Linked DNA regions of Homo sapiens: region 1 is linked to region 2. A link means that fine-mapping ties the variant in region 2 to the expression of a gene that starts in the linked region. Tissue or cell type: blood mononuclear cells. Region 2 holds a variant in brackets; the other region holds the start of a gene. All regions are shown on one strand. Distances are between the middles of the regions.

The links. PIP is the estimated chance that this variant, and not a neighbour inherited with it, causes the effect.
Region 1: KIF1B starts here. The variant in region 2 is fine-mapped to the expression of KIF1B in blood mononuclear cells (TOPMed, PIP above 0.99). The same link has a PIP of 0.9 or more in T cells.

Annotation. Positions count from the first base shown.
Region 1 is chr1:10,206,348-10,214,435 of GRCh38, reverse strand. KIF1B (kinesin family member 1B) reads right to left here and starts at 3,866. Exons shown (of 49, transcript NM_001365951.3): 1 at 3,558-3,866. RefSeq lists an enhancer at 2,078-2,733 and silencers at 3,635-4,154, 4,185-4,264, 4,351-4,645.
Region 2 is chr1:10,379,591-10,387,691 of GRCh38, reverse strand. KIF1B (kinesin family member 1B) reads right to left here. Exons shown (of 49, transcript NM_001365951.3): 49 at 6,089-8,101. Among named protein-coding and RNA genes, the nearest start is that of PGD, 15 kb to the left of the region's middle. The variant G/A (reference allele first, on the strand shown) is at 4,894.

The sequences.
Region 1 (8,088 bases), 170 kb after region 2:
TGCCTGTAATCCCAGCTACTTGGGAGGCTGAGGCAGGAGAATCATTTGAACCCGGGAGGCGGAGGTTGCAGTGAGCTGAGATCACACCAATGCACTCCAGCCTGGGTGACAGGGCGAGACTCTGTCTTAAAAAAAAAAAAGAAAGAAAGAAAGAAAGAAGTGGTAAAGTGTGAGTTCCTGGAAGGTAAAGAACTAAATCTCTACATGCACCCTCAGTTAATGGGTAATGCCTATAGTAAAAGAGCATCAATGAATCAGTGGCCCGTTAACCAAACAGTTCAACTCTGAGAAGTCCAAGGCATCTTTTTATTTTTAGCAGGCAAAGTCTGAGCCCAGAGTGGAGTGCAATGGCGCTGTCTTAGCTCACTGTAATCTCAAACTCAAGCCATCCTCCCCACTCAGCCTCCGAAGCACTAGGACTACAAACACACACCACCCACATCCAGATTTTTTTTTTTTTGGTAGAGATGGGGGTCCTGCTATGTTGTCCAAGCTTGTCTCAAACTCTTGATGTGAAGCAATCCTCCCGCCTCAGCCTCCCAAAGCACTGGGATTACAGATGTGAGCCACTGCATCCGGCCCAAGGCACCTTTTGCAGGTTTTTCCTACCACAGTCACATCTGTTTAATTTCTCTTCTATCCTGACAAGCTGCACAAAAAAAGTTCAAGAAGTATGCATATTTATTCACACTGTTTCACAGAATCCAGATATTCACCAGTACCTGTTCAAACGAGGCCATCTTTCAAAGAGAAATACATGAAATAGACATAAAATAACTTCAGAGCATTATGAAATTATATCATGTTAGTTTACAAGACCAAAAGGATATGCTTCCTCCTGGAAAAGATCTACTATGATTAGCAGCCTGGGAAGGGGATTACAAACAGGAAGGCAGGGGGCCCATTGTCCTTTACTTTGTACCCAGGACAAGACCACAGTGAGAAAATGGGCTAAAAAGCTTTGGCCTTAAGAAAGACTCCGTTGGCAGACTTTCTTGGACACTTATTCCCTGCACGAAATCAAAATGGGAAAGAAGAAAGAGAGAAAAAAGGAAAAGTGCATTCATATCTGGTCTTGAAAAGGAAAAACAGTCTGTTCTAAGCCTTAAAAGCTATACTTAATTGGATAAATTTTGGAAAAACACTCATCAGAGCAGAGCTACACATACTCATAAAACCTAGCCTCTGTATCAGATTCACAATCAGGTCTGATTTTACCAAATGCTGAAATTATTTTTAATCAAAAATATTCAGATCTTTATACTAATAAAGTAACTCTAAAAATTAAAAACTTAGAAATACTTCTAACTTAGGGCATGGAATTTCAAAACAGACATTCTGTATTTCTCTCATACTAGTGTAATGCAAAAAACACTAGTTTCTGTTGAAGTTACATTTGATTCAACAAGTTTTAAAACTAAAGCTTGATGACAAAAATAACAAAAAAATAGTGTTAAGACCTTGCTTAGCAAAAGCTATCCAAATTTTTTAAATGTGTGTGTGTATATATATATATATATATATATATATATATATATATATATACACACACGCATGCACACACACACATATATATATACACATTTTTTTTTTTAGCCAGGGTCTTGCTGTTGCCCAGGCTAGCCTCAAGCAATCCTCCCACCTCAGTCTCCCAAATAGCTGGGAATACAGGCATGAGCCACCATGCCCAGGTATTTATTTATTCATTTATTTTTGTAGAGACAGAGTCCCACTCTGTTGCCCAGGGTGGTCTCGAACTCCTGAGCTCAAGGGATCCTCCTGTCTCAGCCTCCCAAAGTGTTGGGATTACAAGGCATGAGCCACCACACCCATCCCAAAATTTTTTACATAGTTCAACCTGAGAAGTTATGAGAATGTATTTATGAACAAATTGAACTTGAATGAAAGCAAAGGCCACAAAGAAGAAAGCAGGCATGCCATCTCTCCAGGTCCTGTCCACATCTAGGATATAGAAAAGAACAGATCTACAGACTCATGCTGAACCCAGTTATTGATCATCTCCAGACCTGCTTTACAATACCAACCTATGTGTAATTCTCATATTCCACCTTCAAACAATACATTAACAACACTTGCTCTATAATCCAGCAACCATATCAACTTAATCAGAAAGCACCACCTCACTTCTTAGAGGAACACAAGAACTAGATTTTGTTATGACTAAACTAAGGAGACAAAATGCCAGCCTTTAAATAAAATATCCACCATGATATCACCTCTTAAGAGTTATTCAAATCTCATCAGCACACTTTCATCAGGCTCAGACAGGCACATCATGACACAAAGCGGAATGTTCAATGGTGGCAGAACAGCTGCTCAGAGCAGTAAGAGATATGAGCAAGGGATCTGTTGACAATCTAATTTCAGCTACCTCGAGATTCCACAAAGATGACAGCCTGCGTCCTCAGAAATGCCGCCACTAGCCTCGCCCACTATCAGAATACTCTGGTTTACTTCTTCTCTGCAAGTCGAGCGACTCTGAAAATCTATCCATCCAATGCTCTACGGCTACTCGAGGCCTCCATACTGATACAGTGGCCTTAGCAATTCTCAGATCGGCCTATGCACATGTAAAGCATCAGCAGGCCTTTCACAGCCCCCGCACTGGACGCAGAAGATGAATAGAGAAACACGGAATTTCACCCCAACAAGAATGGAATCTTGAAGGCAGTTTACCTTGGAAGCTCATTTAGCAATCAAGGAAAAAAAAAAAAAGGGATCTGGAAGCTCCATTCTGGCGTTAGGGGCGGGAATGTTTTGTGTTGCATGAACAATGACTAGCTTGCTCAAGCAGCCTCCCAACCCCCACAACTTGGCTTCTGGTCTGGCCAGTCACCCTGAAAGCTGCCAGGGCTGTCACTCGGTGCCTTCCAACAACTGGACTTGGCTCCTAAAGGATTTGTCAGATCATCCTCCCAATATGGCTGCCCGAGTAATCCCAGTCGGCTGAATGCCGAGACCACACCAGCCTTCCTCACACCTGGCCAGCATCCAACAAGCCCCCTCCCTTCCTATCGCACCCCTCTTTCCAGGCCTCGAGCCCTCGGCTCCCCCAGCGCCAAGCGATGACCTTTCCTATCGCCATCTGGCAAAGGGCATAACCACATTCCCAGCCGAAGCCCGATGCCCACCACAAAGGAGGAAAGGGGAGAGGGAAAATGAGAAACGATGGCTTCAAACGAAGCACAGCCGCCCCCCGGGCTGCAACGTGCGCGGAGCCCAGGGAACGGCCAGGCAGCGGCGGGTCTGGAGAGCGCTGGGCACAGCCGGGGCCTGGCAGCGCGGGGGAAACGGAGGGCCGGTGCAGGGCACTGCGGGGGCCCCAGCCGACCGCTGGACGCCGGCCCGGGACTCGCTGCTGGCCTAGGGAGGGGTCCCCTCCCCCGAGGGCGAGGCTCCCGCACCCGGCGCCCGTCCCGCGCTACCTCCCCTCAGACCCCGCCCGGACCCCGGCCCGGCCGCTCCTCCCCGCGGAAGCGGCCCCCTCCCCAACCCCGCGACCGCGGCGCCAACCGCGGCCAGCCCCGCCGCCTTACCTCAGCCGCGCTGCAGACCGACGGGCGGACCGGGTCAACAGGAGCCGCGGCGCGCGGGGGCGCGGGGGGCCGGGCACCGACGCACCTCAGCGCGAGCAGCGGCCGCCGCGAGCCGCAGGGCGCCGCTCCGCAGCCCCATCACGCAGCAGCCCGGCACCGCATCGAGGTGGGAGGTGGGCGGTGGGCGGCGGACAGGAGTGCGCGAGTGCGGGAGGCCAGGGCGCGGCGACGGCCGGCGGTGACGGCTGCGGAGGACGGGGAGCTGCTCCGACGCGCGCGGGCGCCTCCCAGGACCGCTGCCGTCACACTGCCCCGCTTCGGCCCTCGCGAAACTCCGCCCGCAGTCGCCGGCGCGGGACACCGCCCCGAGCTGGGCCTCTGCGCGTCACCTCGTATCCGCCCCGGCGCCCGCGACGGACACGGGCTGTGACCAATCACAGCACAGAGCTCGGGGCGGCCAGCCAATCGTAGGGTGAGCCGGGGAGTGGGGCTGCTGCGGGGGGCTGCAGGAACATCGAGCGCCCCCTGGTGGCCCTCGGGCCGGCTCAACCAGGGGTGCGGGCTGGCCAAAGCCGGAGCCCGGAGTTCCCTCCCGGGTGACCCCCAAGGGCATTCGTCGGAATCAGCCGCCCCCAGCCACCCCGATAATCCGCCTTATACGGGGACAAAAGATTGACTGAGTGGAGCGGGGCGGGGCCCAGGGGTCCTGACGCCCGCAGAGGAGCTGGGATCAACATGGGAGGCGCCGAGAGTGGAATCATTGTCCGTCGGAAAACATCTCGCAGGCGGAACCGGCCGAACGCGGCGCGGTGGGAGCGGAACCCCGAGAGGGGATGAGCGCATCCCGCGGGAAGCTGCCTGGCCTATTCTTACAGAACCCGAGCAAAACACCTCCCACGCGCCACCTCGGGAGAGAAGGCGGAATGAGTAATGGAAAAGCATGACTTGGTGGGCATTCCACTTGTCTCCTTGGGAGACCGCGGAAGGGCTGTGAGGAGAGGAACAAACGCTTTGCACCGTCCCTGAGTTAACGAGCCCAGCCCCCTTCTGGGAGATGCCCTTGAAGGAGGGAGAGTGGAAGTTAGAAACCCGGAGGACACAAAAGCACGAGCAGTGATTTCTTTAAAATCAGATTTAGATTCAGCTGGAAAGAAAAATCTCACTGTTCAGAAACTGTTCAATTCAGTACTTAACAAAATATAATCTTCAGTGATAATATATTCAATTATCAGGCCCAGGCCGAGCACTATTACTTTATAAGGTTGTGAATTATTTTTATTTACTAGCAGACATTGAAAGTAAAATCACATGTCTTCCCCTGAATTAAATACAGTATTATTGTGAGTAAAAGGTATTATGTACAAGCATATGCACTAAAACATCGAAATTAATTTTCTACACTAATAATTCTGGAAAATCTCCACCACCACTCAAGTCCTCAGACTCTTCATCCGCTTTTATTGATCACGTCTCATTTTATAGAATTTAAGCTCCACCTACCTGCAAAAGGATTTGACATAGCTTACACTAAAGCATACAGCAGTGAAACCGTATAGCTTTAAAATAGGCGTAAAATTCATAATAATGAAACAAGCAAGAGACTTTTTAAAAGCTGTTTGAATGAGAGGCATGCCTAGAAAGAAAAATTTTTTTGTTTTGTTTTGAGACAGAGTTTTACTCTCGCCCAGGCTGAGCTCAGTGGCACGATGTCAAATCTCTGCAACCTCCGCCTCCCAGGTTCAAGCGATTCTCCTGCCTCAGCCTCCCGAGTAGCTGGGATTACAGGTGCCTGCCACCACGCCCGGCTAATTTTTGTATTTTTAGTAGAGACGGTGTTTCACTATGTTGGTCAGGTTGGTCTTGAACTCCTGACCTCAGGTGATCCACCTGTCTCAGCCTCTCAAAGTGCTGGGATTACAGGAATGAGCCACCGCGCCCGGCCAGAAAAACAATATTTTAAAAATCCATAGTCAAGGAAATATGTTGCCACTGAGCACAGAACTCAGCTCTTAGCTTCCTGACGGCTAAGAGTAAAATGAAACTATAGTAGGTTAATAAAGAGGAACTCATCAATTCAACAGTAGACACCACTTCATCATAGCGTGGACCTCCTTGCGTAAATACTGTGGTGAGCGCCATGGAGAGTTACGAAAACCTGGGTGGCTGTATTGCTTGAGCTCTCAATGGAGCACAATCTAAAAAGAATCTAAAACGTAGTGAAGAACCAGGCGCGGTGGCTCACGACAGTAATCCCAACACTTTGGGAGGCTGAGGCGGGTGGATCACTTGAGGTCAGGAGTTCGAGACCAGCCTGACCAACATGGCAAAACCCCATCTCTACTAAAAAATACAAAAATTAGCCAGGCGTGGTGGGCACGCCTGTAATACCAGCTACTTGGGAACCTGAGGCAGGAGAATCACTTGAACCCGGGAGGTGGACGAGGCGGCAGTTGCAGTGAGCTGAGATCCTACCACTGAACTCCAGCCTGGGAGATAGAGTGAGACTCTGTCTCAACAAAAAATAAAATAAAATTTAAAACAAAAACGTAGTGAAGAGGGTGTGATTGTGATTGGCAGGAGAAGAAGCTAGCCAAAGGGCACACAGAAGGCACAGAAGGGTCAATAAAGGCAAAGAAGGCTGCTCCAGGATCCAAGGCCAAACAGCCCACTCTGCATAAGCCTTTTGCCTCTCTGACAGATGAAGTCACACTGCCCAGCCAGTTTCTCAGATTACAAATTCTGTATAAAAGCATCTCTTTAAAATGATAAATAAATTACTAGAAAATTGAATGTAGCCATGATCTGGTAGGGCTGTCTCTGGAATGCAAGGATACGAGAACATCAGAAGTCCTAGTCACGTGGTGCACTGCCACTCTCCCATCACAATCACAATCACAATCAGGTTTCTGGATACAAAATCAATACACAAAAATCCGAAGTGTTCCTTTTTGATAGGAAGACTTTATTATTACTATTATTTTAGACAGGGTCTCACTCTGTCACCCAGGCTGGAGTGCAGTGGTGTGATCACAGCTTACTACAGCCTCAACCCTTGCCCCCTGGTTTAATCCATCCTCCCACCTCAGCCTCCTGAGTAGGTGGCACTATAGGCACACACCACCACGCCCAGCTAATTTTTCTATTTTTTGTAGAGACGGCTGGTATCCAGCTCCTGGACTCCAGTGATCCATCAACCTCAGCCTCCCAAAGTGCTGGGACTACAGGTGTGAGCCACTGAGCCTGGCCTTTATTGCTATTTTTAATGGGATCTTTTTAAAAAATCAAGTCTTCCCGGCCAGGTGCTGTGGCCCACGCCTGTAATCCCAGTACTTTGGGAGGCAGAGTAGGCTGATCGCTTGAGCCTAGGAGTTTGAGACAAGCCTAGGCAACATAACGAGACCCTATCTCTACAAAAAATACAAAAAAAAAAAAAAAAGTAGCCAGACATGGTGGTATGTACCTGTAGTCCCAGCTGCTTGGGAGGCTGAGTGGGAAGATCAATTGAGCCTGGAAGGTCAAGGCTACAGTGAGCTATGATTGCACCACAGCACTCGAGCCTCAATGACAGAGTGAGATCCTGTCTCAAAAAAAAAAAGAAAGAAAGAAAAAAAGCAATAAAAGCTATTCAATATTTAAGAATAAATGCACCTGTAATCCCAGCACTTTGGGAGGCCCAGGTGGGTGAATCACTTGAGGTAAGGAGTTCGAGACCAGCCTAGCCAACATGGTGAAACACAGTCTCTACTAAAAATACAAAAAATTAGCCAGATGTGGTGGTACATGCCTGTAATCCCAGCTACTCGGGAGGCTGAGGCAGGAGAATGGCGTGAACCCAGGAGGTGGAGCTTGCAGTGAGCCGAGATCTCACCACTGCAGTCCAGCCTGGGTGACAGAGCGAGACTCTGTCTCAAAAAAAAAAAAAAAAAGGTGCAGGATAATAGGTGCGGGACAGTGGCATTTATACATAAAGTCTGAAGTATGAATATGAGCACTATACTGTTTAGGACTAAATTTATGTATAGTCAAGTGTGAAAACATGGATGGCAATGACAATCATCAAATTCAGGATGAGATTAACCCAGGAAAGAAAGAGAGAAAAACAAAACAAACAAACAAAAAAAGGGAGGATGACATGAGGATCTGCAACTTTATGTGTAATATTTTATTTCTTGAAAAACAAAATAACAGGAAGATGGAAATGTTGAGTTGGGAGGAAAAACCAGAGAATTTATTGATTTGTCTTGAACTCCTTATTGTTATTATTATTTTTTGTTTGTTTTTTGAGATGGAGTCTCGTTCTGTCGCCCAGGCTGGAGTTCGGAGGTGCTATTTCTGCCGTTGATGATTTTCCGCCTTCCATTTTCTTCTCTGGAAATGTCTATTATTGATTGATTGATTGACCGATTAATTGATTTAGAGACAGAGTCTCCCCTTCTCACCCAGGCTGGAGTGCAGTGACTCGATCTCGGCTCACTGCAACCTCTGCCCCCCAGGTTCAAGCGGAGCGATTCTCCTGTCTCAGCCTCCCAAG
Region 2 (8,101 bases):
GGGCAGATTTGAAAATCCCAGCTCTGACACTCACTCAACTAAATAATTCTCGTAGCTGAACTCAAACTGAACTCAAATGACCTGAATATATTTTAGGTGGAAAGAGTACTTTTTTTTTTTTTGAGACGTGGTCTTGCCCTGTTGCCTGGGCTAGGCTGGAACTCCTGGGCTCAGAGGAGCTTGCATGAAATGATGCCTTTCATTTACAGGCACATGCCACTATGCCCAGCTCCTTTTTTTTTTTTTTTTTTTTTTTGAGACAGGGTCTTGCTTTGTTACCCAGGCGCCAGTGGCACCATCATAGCTCACTGCAGTCTCAAACTCCTGGGCTCAAGGGATCCTCCCATCTCAGCTTCCTGAGTAGCTGAGGCTACAGGTGTGTACCACCATGCCCAGTTAATTGTTTTTATTTTTTGTAGAAATGGGGGCTCACTAAGTTGCCCAGGCTGGTTTTGAGCTCTGGCTTCAAGTGATCCTCCTGCCACGGCCTCTCAAAGTGCTGGGATTACAGGTGTAAGCCACCATGCCTGCTCCCCCCGCCTTTTTTTTTTTTTTTTTTTTTTTTTAAAGAAACAGGTTCTTGCTTTGTTGCCCATGCTGGCCTTGAACTGCTGGACTCAAGCAATCATTCCACGTTAGCTTCCAGAGTAGCAGAAGGAGCAATTCTGAAAAAGCCCAGAGGCTATATATTCTCACCCCAGAGGAGTATGCTTGTGATGTGCTCAGAATAGCTAAAATGGTCTGTGCAGGGACAAGAGTTCCTAAGGGAAAGTGGAATATCTCCCCATCCAACCGCAAGTGGAATAACAAGAAGAACCAGATAGAAAAGCAGCGCACGAGCCCGGGCCAGGCGCAGTGGCCCACACCTGTAATCCCAGCACTTTGGGAGGCCGAGGTGGGCAGATCACAAGGTCAGGAGATCAAGACCATCCTGGCTAACACGGTGAAACCCTGTCTCTACTAAGAAATACAAAAAATTAGCCAGGCGTGGTGGCGGGCGCCTGTAGTCCCAGCTACTCAGGAAGCTGAGGCAGGAGAATGGCGTGAACCCAGGAGGCGGAGCTTGCAGTGAGCCGAGATTGTGCCACTGCACTCCAGCCTGGGCGACGGAGCAAGACTCCGTCTCAAAACAACAACAACAAAAGAAAAGCAGCGCACCAGACTCATGCATGCTTCCATGGGTCACCTGACTTCCCAAACTATCAGCTTTGCAAGAGACATGGGGATTTACTAAGCGTGCAACCCTAGTGAGGATTCAATCCTACATGCTCCTGGGTGAGGTCTAGTTGAGGGCACAACCAGCATAATATGCACTGATTCGGGGATGATCTCCCATTTTAAACTGCAAGTCCAGTTTCAGGAAGACGTGGCCTGACATAAGCCCTAGAGCTGACATTAACTAACTTTTTTTTTTTTTTTTTTTTTGAGACAAAAATCTCGCTCTGTAGCCCAGGCTGGAGTGCAATGGTGTGATCCCGGCTCACCGCAACCTCTGCCTCCCGGGTTCAAGTGATTCTCCAGCCTCAGCCTCCCGAGTAGCTGGGATTACAGGTACCCACCACCATGCCCAGCTAATTTTTGTATTTTTAGTAGAGACAGGGTTTCACCATGTTGGCCAGGCTGGTTTTGAACTCCTGAGCTCAGGTGATCCACCCGCCTTAGCCTCCCAAAGTGCTGGGATTACAGGCATGAGCCACCACGCCCAGCCAGACATTAACTTAAGACTGAAGAGTCCTAGCAATCCAGAGACTTGCAGTGTTCCTATCACTGAGCTGTCGGCAGCACTGTGGATATAAGCCAGGGTGCTCAGTTGGATCTAGGACCTACCTCTCTGCTGTGCACTGGCCCCCAGTCCCTCAGGCCCACTCCACAACTCTCTCCACCTCACTGTCTTCCCCACTGCCAGGTTTTCCCTCCCAGTTCATTTTTTCCAATTAGTACATGCACAAGCTATGCTATTTCCCTTCTTTAAAACAAAAGCCTCTCCTTTACCCCATATCCCCTTCCAGTTACTCCATTTGTCTTTTCCCTTTTACAGAAAAATCTATGAAAGAATTGTTTGTACTGTTTCACCCTCCTCTCCTCCCACTTTCCCTAGAACCTACTCCAATTAGGCACCACTCAAACAAATGCTCCCCTCACCAATGACCTTGCTAGTGTAGAAGCACTCCTGATGCCTCCCTCCATGAGAAGTGAGCCCCATTACTAGAATGTTCCTGTGAGTCTGGAAGGAGCGGTTAGGCATAGACTGCCTGGCCACTTCCTCCCTCTCTCTCAGAACCTCGGCTGCCTTCAGGGGACATATGCGCTGCGTTCCTCTTAACTTCTGCTACTCAAAGAGTGATCCCCACAATGGCAATACTGACATCACTTGGAAGCTTATTAGAAAAGCAGAATCTCAGGCTCCACCCAAGCCCTACTCAATCAGAACCTGCATTTTAGTACGATCCCCAGGGGATTCTGGTGCACAATAAAGTTCAAGAAGCACTGCTCTAAACCGCCTCATTCTGAGGTTCAGCCTTACAAAATAAATCCAGGCCGGGCGCGGTGGCTCACGCCTGTAATTCCAGCACTTTGGGAGGCTGAGGCGGGCAGACCATGAGGTCAGGAGATCGAGACCATCCTGGCTAACATGGTGAAGCCCCGTCTCTACTAAAAATACAAAAAAAAAAATTAGCCGGGCGCGGTGGCGGGTGCCTGTAGTCCCAGCTACTGGGGAGGCTGAGGCAGGAGAATGGTGTGAATCTGGGAGGCGGAGCTTGCAGTGAGCCAAGATGACACCACTGCACTCCAGCCTGGGCGACAGAGCGAGATGCCATCACAAAAAAAAAAGAAAAGAAAAGAAATCCAGTGTTCCCAGATGTAACCACATTTTCTAACAGCAGTTTTATCAGTAATAAGGGTGGTATTTTGGTCTCCCATCTCCCATCGTCTTATTTTTTGTTTCTTAATTGGTTCTGAAATTGGGAAAAATTAGGGTATCCCCTGGCTCCCTCGGACTTCTTACACCTTTCAGTTAACAAAACCTGTGGTCCCTGCTCAGTCCTTCCTGTAACCTATTGGCTGCCCTGGACAAAGCAACCACTTCCTCAGTCTTCCACACTCTCCCTCCACGGCCACTGCTTGTCCTCCTGGCTGGACTCCTCTCTCTTCCTGACCTCCATGTGTTGGAGCGCACCAAGCTCCAAGATCAGTCCTTGGTTCCTGTCAGCCACACACACGCTCCAGGTCTCCTTCCCTGCCTGAGGCTCGATCTGCTATCTTCATGCCGCCAACTCCCAAATGTGTGTCTCCAGCTCCAACCACTCCCCTTGAATCCCGCTAGTCCAGCCAACTGTTTTGTTGACTATACACTTAGGTGCATGTGTTGGCATCTGAAAGTGAACATGACTCAAATCAAATTATTATTATTATTTTGAGACAGTTTCGCTCTCTGTTGCTCAGGCTGGAGTGCAGTGGCGTGATCTCAGATCACTGCAACCTCTGCCTCCTGGGTCCAAGCGGTTCTCCTGTCTCAGCCTCCCAAATAGCTGGGATTACAGGCGCCTGCCACCACGCCCCGCTAATTTTTGTATTTTTAGTAGAGACGGGGTTTCACCATGTTGGCCAGGCTGGCCTCAAACTCCTGACCTCAGGTGATCTGCCCGCCTCGGCCTCCCAAAGTGCTATTTTCTTAACAGTCAGGGTCTCAACTCTGTTGACCAGGCTGGAGTGCAGTGGCAAGATCACAGCTCACTGCAGCTTCCAACTCCTGGGCTCAAGCGATCCTTCTGCCTTAGTCTCCTGGGTATCTGGCACTACTGGCGTGCACCATCATGCCCAGCTAATTTTTAATTGTTTGTAGAGATGGGGTCTCACTACATTGCCCAGGCTGGTCGGTCTCGAAGTCTTGGGCTCCAGTGATCCTCCCACCTTGGCTTCCCAAAGTGCTGGGATTACAGGCATGACCATTCTCAGCTTTTGTTCTACCAATTGTCTTCACCTTAGAAAACTGCAATGCTGTTCTTTTACTCAGGCACTTACCCTTTTAGTTACTTTTCTCCTTTCTCTCCAACAACTCTGCATGAAGTCTCTCAGAAAACTGTTCTAACTTCAAAATGTACCTTGAATCTGCCCATTTCGTCCCACCTATACTCTACTACCTTAGTCTGAGCCACCGTCTCCTCCCCTGGAATACTGGGGTAACAATCTTATTTTGCCCCTTTTTTCCACTTGTCCCTGCCTGAGTACAAAGACTGTTTTCCAGAATGGTCTTTTAAAAATGTAAATAAGCCCCTGTGACTCCTCTGCTCCAAAGCCTTCAATGGCTTCCCATTCACTCTAATGAAATTCCAAGTCCTCACCTAAGCCCTAAATATCCTGGTCCCTGGCTACTTTCTGATGTCTTCTATTGCGCTCCCAGTCCCTGACTCTGTACCAGCGACCTTGCTATTTCTGGAACCTACTGAGGACACTGCTGCCTCAAGGGCTTCATTTCTCTACTTGGAGACCTCTTTGCCCAGGGGTTTGCATGGCTTACCCTATCCTTTCATTCTAGAGTCTGCTCAAATGTGATCTCCGAAGAGAGGCCTTCCCTGACTATGCCATCTAAACATCCCTCGTTCCCATCCCTCTTTCATCCTTTTATTTAGCTGCTTTCCTCCAAAATACTTAGGACCGATGTTGTAAATTTGTTTAAACATTGTCTTCCCCACTGGAATGGGAGGGCACAAGTGCATGGGCTTGCTTTGTTGGCTGCTGAATTACTGCACCCAGCAGCACACCAGGCACAGGGTGGGTACTCAAATATTGGTTGGAACAAATCATTGCTTTTAACCTGAGGGCTGCTCCTCCCTCCCTTCTTCTGTTTCTCCCCAAACACCCAGGACAGTGGCCCCTGCTCATGCTCTGCTC[G/A]TGATGAGGGCTTGTTAAATTAAATTGACATGTTCAACTTTTCAAATCCCCATTTACCCTTCCCCACCCAAAAAAACCCAACATGGCCAGGCACGGTGGCTCACGCCTGTAATCCCAGCACTTTGGGAGGCCGAGGTGGGCGGATCACCTGAGGTCAGGAGTTTGAGACCAGTCTGGCCAATGTGCTGAAACCCCGTCTCTACTAAAAATATTTTTAAAAATTAGCCAGGTGTGGTGGCGGGCACCTGTAATTGCAACTACCTGGGAGGCTGAGGAAAGAGAATTGTTTGAACTGGGGAGGCAGAGGTTGCAGTGAGCTGAGATGGTGCCATTGCACACCAGCATGGGTGACAAGAGTCAAACTCCATCTCAAAAAAATAATTATAGGTTGGGCACGGTGGCTCAAGCCTGTAATCCTAGCACTTTGGGAGGCTGAGGCGGGTGGATCACAAGGTCAGGAGCTTGAGACCAGCCTGGCCAACACAGTGAAACCCCTCTCTACTAAAAATAAAATCAGCCAGGCGTGATGGATGCCTGTAATCCCAGCTACTTGGGAGGCTGAGGCAGGGAGAATCGCTTGAACCCGGGAGGTGGAAAGTTGCAGTGAGCCGAGATCATGCCACTGTACTCCAGCCTGGACGACAGAGTGAGACTCCATCTCAAAATAAATAAATAAATAAATAAAATAATAATAATAATAATAATAATAATAATACAAAAATTAGCCACGCATGGTGGCGCACGCCTGTAATCCCAGCTACTCAGGAGTCTGAGGCAGGAGAATCGCTTGAACCCAGGAGGCAGAGGTTGCAGTGACCCGAGATCACATCACTGCACTCCAGCATGGGTGACAGAGCAAGACTCTGTCTCAAAAAGAAAAAAAAAAAAAAAAAGAAGCCAACACAACACTACAGAATTATTGGAAGGCATACAAGGAGGCTTCAGGAGAAAAACAACAAATCTTCTAGCTAAAATAACCACTTACATCTTTGGGAGAAAAGTACTTTCAAAGAAACAGCACCATATTAGCTTTCTTGGTTATATAAAAACCACGATTTTGAATATCAGAAAGGAATACTTAAGCGATGATATCGTGACTTCTGTCTTAGAAAGGTATTATCTTTGCAAATCAAGAAAAGAAATCTTTGTGCAATTACCTTTCAAGGGGTGCAAGAATAAATGCACATCGAGAACCTTCTGATGCACTGGCTGTACCTTTATTATTTTTACCTCGTTCACTAACAGCTCCGTGACGCAAGGTTACCACACACAGTTAGATAGTGTCTGCATTGCACATCTAAGGCTATACAGCAAAAGAATCAGAATTAGTACAAATACAAGAACTATATTTACAGTCTGTATACTCAAGCTCCAAACATCAGATAATATTTACAAAATAAAACATGAAAATGAAAATCCAAAATTAATGTACATTGTTGCTAATGTGCTCAACTCCTTCACGGGGGAGAGATCAGTTTGCAAAGTCTTGGTTCAAAAAGGCCACTTATGCATTATGGGTTTTGTTGTCATGTGTGAGGATGGTGACAAGAGACTTGAAATCTCAACAGACAGGTACTTTAGAGCCACAAAGTCTAAGACGATGCCTTAAATACAAGAAGGCTGAGGGACTCCTCAAGTGAGCTGATGCCAGAATAGGCAGAATGAAAAAAAATGAACTCGAAGACATGAAGAACAACACACAACAGCCACGGTTTGGCAAGAGACCAACCTCAGCTCAGACTTTCCATCTGAGCACAGCCGTTTGGCTATGAGCTTTTTACTGAATTTTATAGCAACTCTGATTTCTTCCTTTAAATGATTGGAGGCTTTTTAAAGATCTTATGGGGCTCAAATACTAACTTCATAAATGGCCTTTTGAATAACAGCAGCAAATAATCTCTCAGCTGATATTTCAATTTACTAAGGAAGCACAAATTAAAACATTCCTGCTACACAGTCATGGTCTGGCCACACACTGGGGTGAATCACTGGCCCTGGTGAACAACTGTAGTGCACACAAGTTAGAGTCCTATGTAAACACATCCAGCAAACCTTCTGGGAGCAGCAGCATCATGAATCTTTTCTTTTTTTTTGAGACGGAGTCCTGCTTTGTCACCCAGGCTGGAGTGCAATGGTGCAGTCTCAACTCACTGCAGCCTCCACCTCCCAGGTTCAAGCTATTCTCCTGCCTCAGCCTCCCAAGTAGCTGGGACTACAGGCACACGCCACCACGCCTGGCTACTTTTTGTATTTTTAGTAGAGACGGGGTTTCACCATGTTGGCCAGGCTGGTCTCAAACTTCTGACCTCAGGTGATCCACCTGCCTTGGCCTCCCAATGTGCTGGGATTACAGGCGTGAGCCACCACACCCGGTTGAATCTTTCAAGAGGCAGGTTAACAATCACATTTTTAAAAGGGAACCGAAAGGAAAACTGAAAGACCTAAGTCAAACAAGCCCTGATACTGTCCATTGGAACCCGAGCGGGACACAGCACGAGGGAAATGCAGAAAGAGTACCGATGAGTGTGCACACTGGAGAATCCTTTCTCTCCAATCCACTGTGCAAGTAAGTATAGCTGGATAAATATACATAGACCTGACAAAATTAAATATCCCTGTAAATTAGACAATAAGCAGCAGGCAACAAAGTCTTTGCTTTGGAATATGTGCCAGGAAAAGTCATCTTGTTTTTAGATCTCAAGAGACAGTTCACAATGACTTAGTTCCTTCATCTGAAATGAGCTGAAAAATCCATAAAAAATAGGAGAGTTGTCTGAAGTCTATGTGACTGAAGGGAAAAAATATATAATAGTGGTTTCTTAGTTGGGAAACTCACTCCATTGCCCCTTGCCGTCAGCACGTTTAACAACGAGCTGGGGCTCAGGTGCCCGGCCACTGCCACAAGCACCCCTTGCCTGTGCTCCTGACTAGCGCATGGGCTGGCTGGCCCTGCACAGTCCTGGCCTGAGCGCTGACTGACTCCCAGGAGGGCACACAGACACAGAGAGGGTCTGAGCACTGATTTGGGGCTGGTGGTGAGGCCATATTTTGCTTTGATGGGAGAAAGGAGGATGAGAGACAGAGGAGGAGGTGATTAGTATTAACTAGCACTTATTTCTCTGAATTTGCCTAAGAATTCTCTTTCCTGCCTTTTAAAGTTTTTGCTTATTTAAAGGCGTGCTTTAAGAAAATACATAAAGGTGGTTTC